Homo sapiens: one gene and its partner. The protein of the gene in region 2 purifies or fractionates together with the protein of the main gene of each other region. This does not show direct contact. Each region holds a gene or a part of one and is shown on either strand. Other genes may lie near its edges.

Evidence for each region.
Region 1: the proteins of SMYD1 (region 2) and SPSB3 purify together in Homo sapiens (affinity purification with mass spectrometry; 2 studies listed by BioGRID and IntAct, with this or other methods). This does not show direct contact.

The regions. Positions count from the first base shown.
Region 1 is NC_000016.10:1,775,971-1,779,845, reverse strand, and holds the end of SPSB3 (SPRY domain-containing SOCS box protein 3), read left to right. Parts: exon of another isoform or gene 1-1,233; coding exon 1,234-1,411; coding exon of another isoform or gene 1,412-1,524; coding exon 1,525-1,712; exon of another isoform or gene 1,713-1,797; coding exon 1,798-1,900; exon of another isoform or gene 1,901-1,973; coding exon 1,974-2,099; exon of another isoform or gene 2,100-2,402; coding exon 2,403-2,749; 3' UTR 2,750-3,134; downstream 3,135-3,875. Other genes in the region: structure-specific endonuclease subunit EME2, read right to left, coding at 3,608-3,778, 3,860-3,875.
Region 2 is NC_000002.12:88,066,325-88,069,924, reverse strand, and holds the start of SMYD1 (histone-lysine N-methyltransferase SMYD1), read right to left. Parts: upstream 2,101-3,600; 5' UTR 2,061-2,100; coding exon 1,924-2,060; intron 1-1,923. UniProt on the Homo sapiens protein: Methylates histone H3 at 'Lys-4' (H3K4me), seems able to perform both mono-, di-, and trimethylation. Acts as a transcriptional repressor. Essential for cardiomyocyte differentiation and cardiac morphogenesis.

The DNA of each region.
Region 1 (3,875 bases), on a different chromosome or scaffold from region 2:
TGAGCCTCACAGGCTCGTGGCTGTGGGATGCAGGCGTGCCTGCGGGCTCGGCAGTGTTCGACACATGTGCTGCTTGTCCTGTGTCACCAAATGGGCCTGCAGTCTGTTGTGGGCAGGAGGTAGGCAGTGGCTTCAGTCTTTCTCCTTCTCCAGGGAACCCGGCCCTGGGCCTGCAGTGCAGGTGCTCAGTTCTGTGCCCGGGCTCCTGACTCAGGGGGTCTACCCTGGCTCTGGGGACCCGCACTTCTAGGCAGTGGGGTAGAGTTGTCTGGGCCTGCCTTGTCTGTGGGGTGGGGCCATCCCCTCCAGAAAGGACAGTGTCCTGCCCTGAAGCTGGCTTTCGATAGGTCCACGTTCACCTGGAAGCTGGTGGCGCCCATGTCATGGTCCCCTGTGGCTTCTCCTGGGGATCACATCATCTCTCTGGACCAGCCCTCAACCCTCACTGTCACAAGGCCTCTGCCACAGGCCCCCCGCCACCACTTAGCACTCTCCCTGCTGACCCCCTGGTCCATTCAGCCCCTGGGTGGCCCCCACACAGTCTGTGACAGGGAGGAGGCTGGGAGGGGCACTGCCTCCCACAAGGAGCTCACGTTCTGGTGGGAGGAGGCCAAGAATCAGGACCAAGGAGAACTTCAGTGAAGCAAAAGAAGAAAAATGGAACAGGGGTGAAGGGGCTGGAGAAGCCTCAGGGAGGTGACAGCTGAAACCTGCACCAGGAGGGGCGGGGCCTGTAGTGGGCACTGGGCAGTAGGACCCTGTGGTGAGCCAGGTCTGCTCAGGTAACAGGAAGGTCGTTGGGCCACAGTGTGGTGGGGACTGCCCTGAGGCCGGGTGGCTGCAGCTGGGCCTGGTGTGGGGGTGGTGGCCTTGCCTGGGGGCCCCTGCAGGGCTGGCCTAGCAGGGAAGGTGTCCACACCATCTCAGCTCTGGGCAGGTGGGGTGGACCTGGGGCTTATCCACCGTCTAGAAACCACTTGGAGGCCAGGCAGCCTTGGCTACTGCTCTGTGGCTGGGCCTCCAGGGCCCTCCTGGTCATGCAGAATGGGGCAGAGCCGGAGCCCGTTGGGAGGGAGCCTGGGCTGTGCGCTCGGGGTACTGTGAAGTCCCTGGAGGCCTGGACCCCCATCCTTTCCTGGGTGGGTCAGGGACAGGGTGGGACAGGGACAGAGGGCAAGGGTGAGAGGGTAGAGAGCGGGCAACAGGTAGTAACAGCCGGCCCTTCTCTCCCAGCACAGCGACTCGGACTCCGACCCCGAGTACTCCACGCTGCCGCCATCCATCCCCAGTGCGGTGCCCGTGACCGGCGAGTCCTTCTGTGACTGTGCTGGGCAGAGCGAGGCCTCCTTCTGTAGCAGCCTGCACTCGGCCCACCGGGGCAGGGACTGCCGCTGCGGAGAGGAAGACGAGTGTGAGCGTGGGGCCCAGCCCCTGCTGGGACTGCACTGCGGGCGGGCCTGGGGGTGGGCAGGGCAGAGCCCCATGGAGCTCTCAGGGCTGCCCCAGCCTGGGCCTCTCTTGCAGATTTCGACTGGGTCTGGGATGACTTAAATAAGTCATCAGCCACCCTGCTGAGCTGTGACAACCGTAAGGTCAGCTTCCACATGGAGTACAGCTGCGGCACAGCGGCCATCCGGGGCACCAAGGAGCTGGGGGAGGGCCAGCACTTCTGGGAGATCAAGATGACCTCTCCCGTCTACGGCACCGACATGGTAAGTTGCTTCGGCCCAGGGTGCTTCTGGGGAACCTGGCTCCGGCAGCCCAGCCCCGCGCCCTCTGCCTGGCCCCTGTTCCTAGATGGTGGGCATCGGGACGTCGGATGTGGACCTGGACAAATACCGCCACACGTTCTGCAGCCTGCTGGGCAGGGATGAGGACAGCTGGGGCCTCTCCTACACGGGTGCGTGAGGCCCAGGGTGGGGCGGGGCCGAGCCTGGAGCTCCCGGGCTCACTGCGACCCTGGCTGCCCCCAGGCCTCCTCCACCACAAGGGCGACAAGACCAGCTTCTCATCGCGGTTCGGCCAGGGCTCCATCATTGGCGTGCACCTGGACACCTGGCACGGCACACTCACCTTTTTCAAGAACAGGAAGTGTATAGGTGAGGCCGTCACAGGACTTGAGCTCCTCTCAGCTGTCACCCCGAGGGAGGCAGCCACCCCGCCCCAGCCCAGGGGACACTGAGGTTTTCTGAAAGGGTTCCTCCCAGAAGCCTGAGGCCCCAGGGTCCCAGGGGGTGGGACAGTGAGGCCAGGCTGGAGTGGCAGGGCCAGCGCGTGCACCCTGCCTTGCCTCAGCTGTGCCAGCTGCCCACCCGGGTGACTGTAGCGTGAGGTCTGAGGGGCTGCGCCCAGTAGCTGGCCCCTTCCCTGCCTGGGGTTCAGGCTGGGCCCCTCCCTTCCAGGTGTGGCAGCCACCAAGCTGCAGAACAAGAGATTCTACCCGATGGTGTGCTCCACGGCGGCCCGGAGCAGCATGAAGGTCACCCGCTCCTGTGCCAGCGCCACTTCCCTCCAGTACCTGTGCTGCCACCGCCTGCGCCAGCTGCGGCCAGACTCGGGAGACACGCTGGAGGGTCTGCCGCTGCCGCCGGGCCTCAAGCAGGTGCTACACAACAAGCTGGGCTGGGTCCTGAGCATGAGTTGCAGCCGCCGCAAGGCTCCAGTGTCCGATCCCCAGGCAGCGACCTCCGCCCACCCCAGCAGTCGCGAGCCTCGGCCCTGCCAGAGGAAGCGCTGCCGCCGGACCTGACTGACTTCCCAGTGGAACTGCCTTCTTGGGCTGGGACAGCCCCTTTCCTCTGTCCCTTCTTTCTCTGTCCCTTCCTTCCAGCCACACTCCAGGGCGGAGTTGGATGAGGCCCGTCCGGAGGGAGCCATCTCTTGCTCCCGAGGCTGGGACAGTCCTTTCTGTGGGGGCTCTAGGGCCCCTCTGCTGCTGTGCTGGGTGGGGAAGCGGCTGCCCTGAGCCCCAGGTCTTGTGGGAGGCTGCGAGGACGAGAGCCTGGCTGGAGCCCGCGTTGCTGTTCCCACAGGGCCTCGGTTTTTCCTAACTTGCTCTGCATGCTGTCAGCGGCTGCCCCGCCGTCATAGACTTAAAGGACTGCAATAAATGTAGAGTTGATGTCTAACACCCACATGGCGTGAGCTGAAACGTATCCGTGCAGAGGCCGGGCTTGCGAGCAGCCTGGGCCTTCTCCCAGGCCTCACTGCCCCTCCACATCCTTGGGAGTCCCCTACTGCTTCTGGCTGAGGGTGCCACACCCCAAGCCTCCAGGTGGCAGTGGGGCCCTGGAGCTGCCTTCTGGTCCCTGCCGAGTGTGTGTGTGTGTTGGGGGGGCACAGCCCTGCTGCTGAGGCCTCCCCTGGGGCCTACGTGTTCAGGACTCAGCACAGGAACCGCCAGCCATCTGCCAGCCAGAAGCCCCTCTTCTCCCAGCTACCTAAAACTTCCCCTGCAACCACCCACCCTTCCCCTGAGGTCAGACCTGCTCAGCCAGAGAACCCACCCAGGCTGAGGGTCCACATGTGGCTGGGGGTCCTCCCCCACCGCCCAGGGTGTCTGGTCTGTCCCCAAGGCTGCATGCTGTCCTGGTGGTCCCACGTGTGGTCAGGAGCCCAGGTCCAGCAGGAGATCAGGGTTGGCTGTGGTCAGGAAGAGGCAGATGCGGCGGGAGAGGTCAGGCCCCACCCTGCGGGGACGCCCGCCTTCACTGGGCGGCACAGGAAGGTCGGCCAGGAGGCCCATGCGCTCCCGCTCCGTGCTGCAGGCCTCCAGCGCCTAGGAGCAGGCAAAGGCATGAGAGGGCGCCTGGGGACGGGGCTTCTGCACCTGGAGGGCTTGGAGGAGGCAGGGGCCCACCTGCTGCAGAAGGCGG
Region 2 (3,600 bases):
GCCAGTCATCAGCAGGTAATAGAAGAAGACGTAGCCCTTAAGTACTATGTCTCTGAAGAGTGTATAATAGCACAGAAGATGTCAAAATTATTAAATGAAAAAGCATAATAGCTTGTATAATGAGTATATTACAGCCAAATGAAACCTATGTTTTAAAACAAACCGAAAATAGATACCCAACATGTTAAGAGTGGTTATCGCTGTGTGATGTCTTATCTTTCTAAATTTTCTAAAATGACAATGCCTTGCTTTTATAATGGAATGAAAGCCCATTCAACTTTAACCTTCTTGAAATGGAACTGATTGGCTAGATTGACTTTGGGGAATTGGAAGCAGCAAATGGAGATGTTCTTCACAAGGCCAGGCAGTAACTCACTGGCAGCGCCAGAATTAGTGTTGACAGTCCCTGTGTTTCTGGGTTGTTTTCACTCTGAATCCAGCTGGCTCCCTAACTGTACTCACCCCTCCCCTGACACATACACATACACACACACAGATTAATGAAATAAGACAAGCTCCCCCTGAAAAAGTCACCTCAGCCCCTTATTTTCCTCAAGTGGTGGTGAGCCATATGCCCCAGTTCACACCCTTTTCCCTGAAGGTCTTAGTGGGCAGGAAGACAAGAGAATGTGAATACTAATCAAGTTATCTGTGGGAAGCAGTGCCCTTTCCCAGGGTGGTCAGTGCAGCCAGCCAACCACAAAGCCTAGGTTATCAGACTCAAACCACATAGATGTCAAGCAGGTCACCCCAACCTTGATCTCAGAAAATATTGACAATTTAATGTAATCACCATGTAGGTTTGTTTAAAATGAAGATTTATTACTAATTTAAAAGCTTGGTAGTCTAGTGTGGCCAAGGTCGTGAGGAAGCGGGAATGTAAATTTAATAGAGCCTGTTTGGAGAGCCTATAAAACTGAAAACATCACATCCTACGGCCCAGCAATTCCTCTTCTAGTCCTGTGCCCTGGAGAACAATCGAACATATGTACAGGTAGACACGATCAAGGATTTTCATTTTATTTCATGAAAAATTAAAAACTACCAATTGTCTCTCAATAGGGGAATGGATAAATAAAATGTCATATATTTATAGGATGAAATATTTAAAATTAAGATTGATGATTCATATGGCATATGAATCTATATGGATAGCTCTATAAAGGAAATAGATCTTTGGAATTTAAAAGAAGTATCTATAGATTTAAAGTTCCTGCAAGGATAGACATCAAAAACGTGTTGTTTAGGGAAAAGAGTGAGTTCTAAAATGACATCTGAAGTATGACACCATTTCTGTAAAAAAAAAAAAAAAACCAGACAGACTACAGCCATCCATCTTGTTAAGTGCAGATATATGTATGTAATAGCACAGGAACATTCTAGAAGGAAATACATTGAAATAATAGCAGGGGTAATATCTGAGGAAAGACAGAGGGGACTGGGATTGGGTGATACTCAGATTTTTCAAGGGAAAGTGGATTCCTGGGTTATTCATAATTATAAATATACAAATAGTTCATAATTTTTAAAGTCTCAGCAATTACTTTATCTGGTAATGTATTTATAATAAAAAGAAAGCTAAAAATATAGAGCTTTCTGTCGGAAAATGTTTCCCACAGCACCACACCCACCTTTCCACTCCCAGCACACCCTCTCAGCCAAGTTGGCCAGTATTGGGAGAAAGTGCCCCCGAAGCCTTTGCTCACCTTCACCACCCTTCTAGGAGCCACAGCAAATCACACTGGCAATGATCCCTTGCAGAAAAATTTGTGCCAGAAAAATTAGCTCTCAGAAGTGCCATTTTGTTGAAAAAAGAGCACATGAATTTTATCCCTTCCCCTGATGATTTTTGAGAGCAAAGTATTTTAGAGTTTGGCCCCAGCCAAACTAACAGGAGAGAAGGCAACTCCCCACATTTCATACCTGTCAAAAACCACTGCGGAATAAGCCCGCTCAGCAAAGATGATATCTGCAGCCCAGAACTCCTTGGTGGCCTTCAGACCCCTTCCTTTGCCCTCAGCGGTGAAGACCTCCACGTTCTCCATTCTCCCTATTGTCATCTCAGAGACTGTCAGGCCAGCGCGGCAGTTATTTAACACTGAGCCAAGTCTCTTGTCATTGCTATTTCAGCACCTTCAGCATCCCAAAGAGCAAGACTATAAATGGACAAGCCACCTCCCCTTCCCTACTCGCTCTCAGCTACTGGGCCCTCACCTCCCCCTCTGCTACTTTTCCTGGAGGTGGGGATGGGACAGACAAGAGAACAAGTGAACTGGGAAGAGTTTCATTCATCACCCAGCAAAGCCGACAGAACAGAAAATGACCATGGGTTAATATGGCATAGGGCCTGAAAAGTTTTGAGAGGTTCCATTGCAAGCAGAAGCTATCTGTATGTGCTAAGTTCTGAACTGCAACAATCCTGTTCGGCTTTAGTTGGAGTAGGGAACATTTGGTCAGGAGGGTATTTTTAGCAGCCAGATGCCTCTGTCAATCAAAAGCAGACAGCTGGAATGGTCCCATAGAAACAAGGTGATATTTGCTGCTCTGGGACCCTTCAGCTGTCAGGCTTGCACTTTCTCAAGTGAGATGGGCCCTCGCCCCACCCTTTTCAGTCTCTCTCCCAAGGGTGGACTGTTTAGCAGCAGAAGCTAAACTGAGGGCTGGGCACGGTGGCTCACGCCTGTAATCCCCACCTTGGGAGGCCGAGGCACATGGATCATCTGAGGTCAGGAGTTCAAGACCAGCCTGACCAACATGGTGAAACCCCGTCTCTACCAAAAATACAAAAATTAGCTGGGCGTGGTGGCGGGCGCCTGTAATCCCAGCTACTGAGGAGGCTGAGGCAGGAGAATTGCTTGAACCTGGGAGGCAGAGGTTGCAGTGAGCCGAGATCGCGCCATTGCACTCCAGCCTGGGCGACAGAGTGGGACCCCGTCTCAACAAAAAATTAATAAATAAATAAATAAATAAATAAATAAATAATAAGAAGAAGCTAAACTGAGCCCTTGGCATATACGTAACAGTACTATTTAGGCTCCAAGGGGGCATTTTTCCTCTCCAGTATCACCTGGGGCTCTTACAGCACCCCCTACTCCACAGCATGGAATTCCCTGTTCTTAGCACTGCTGGTGATGCTGGTATGCTGGAGGCAGGCTGGATACAGACAAGGCAGGCTATAAAAATAGCAACCCCCATCTCTATCTTTCTATCAAATTTCCTTTAACATGTGTCTGCTGCCAGGAAAATACCAACGTGCTCTGTCCTTCTTCTTACTCAGGAGTGAGGACACTGGAAAGACGAATCTAAAATCCCCGTTGAACTAAATGCCACTGTTCTTGGCTATCAGGCAGCTTTTACTGAGGTTTAAAAGAAATACACTTGCAGATCTGGAGCTCTGGCTTGACTTCCATGTAAGATTTTTAGTTCCTGGGATGCATCTATTTCCTGGTGGGGGTTGGGGGTGGGGGTGACGGCGGGGGTGGGGGGCAGTGGGCAGGGGCATTTCCTGGATTTTTCTGAGTGTATGGTTTCTGAGTCAGATGAATCTGAGTTTGAATTCTAAGCCTGCTACTACCACTTGAGATGGAACCTGTGAAACAA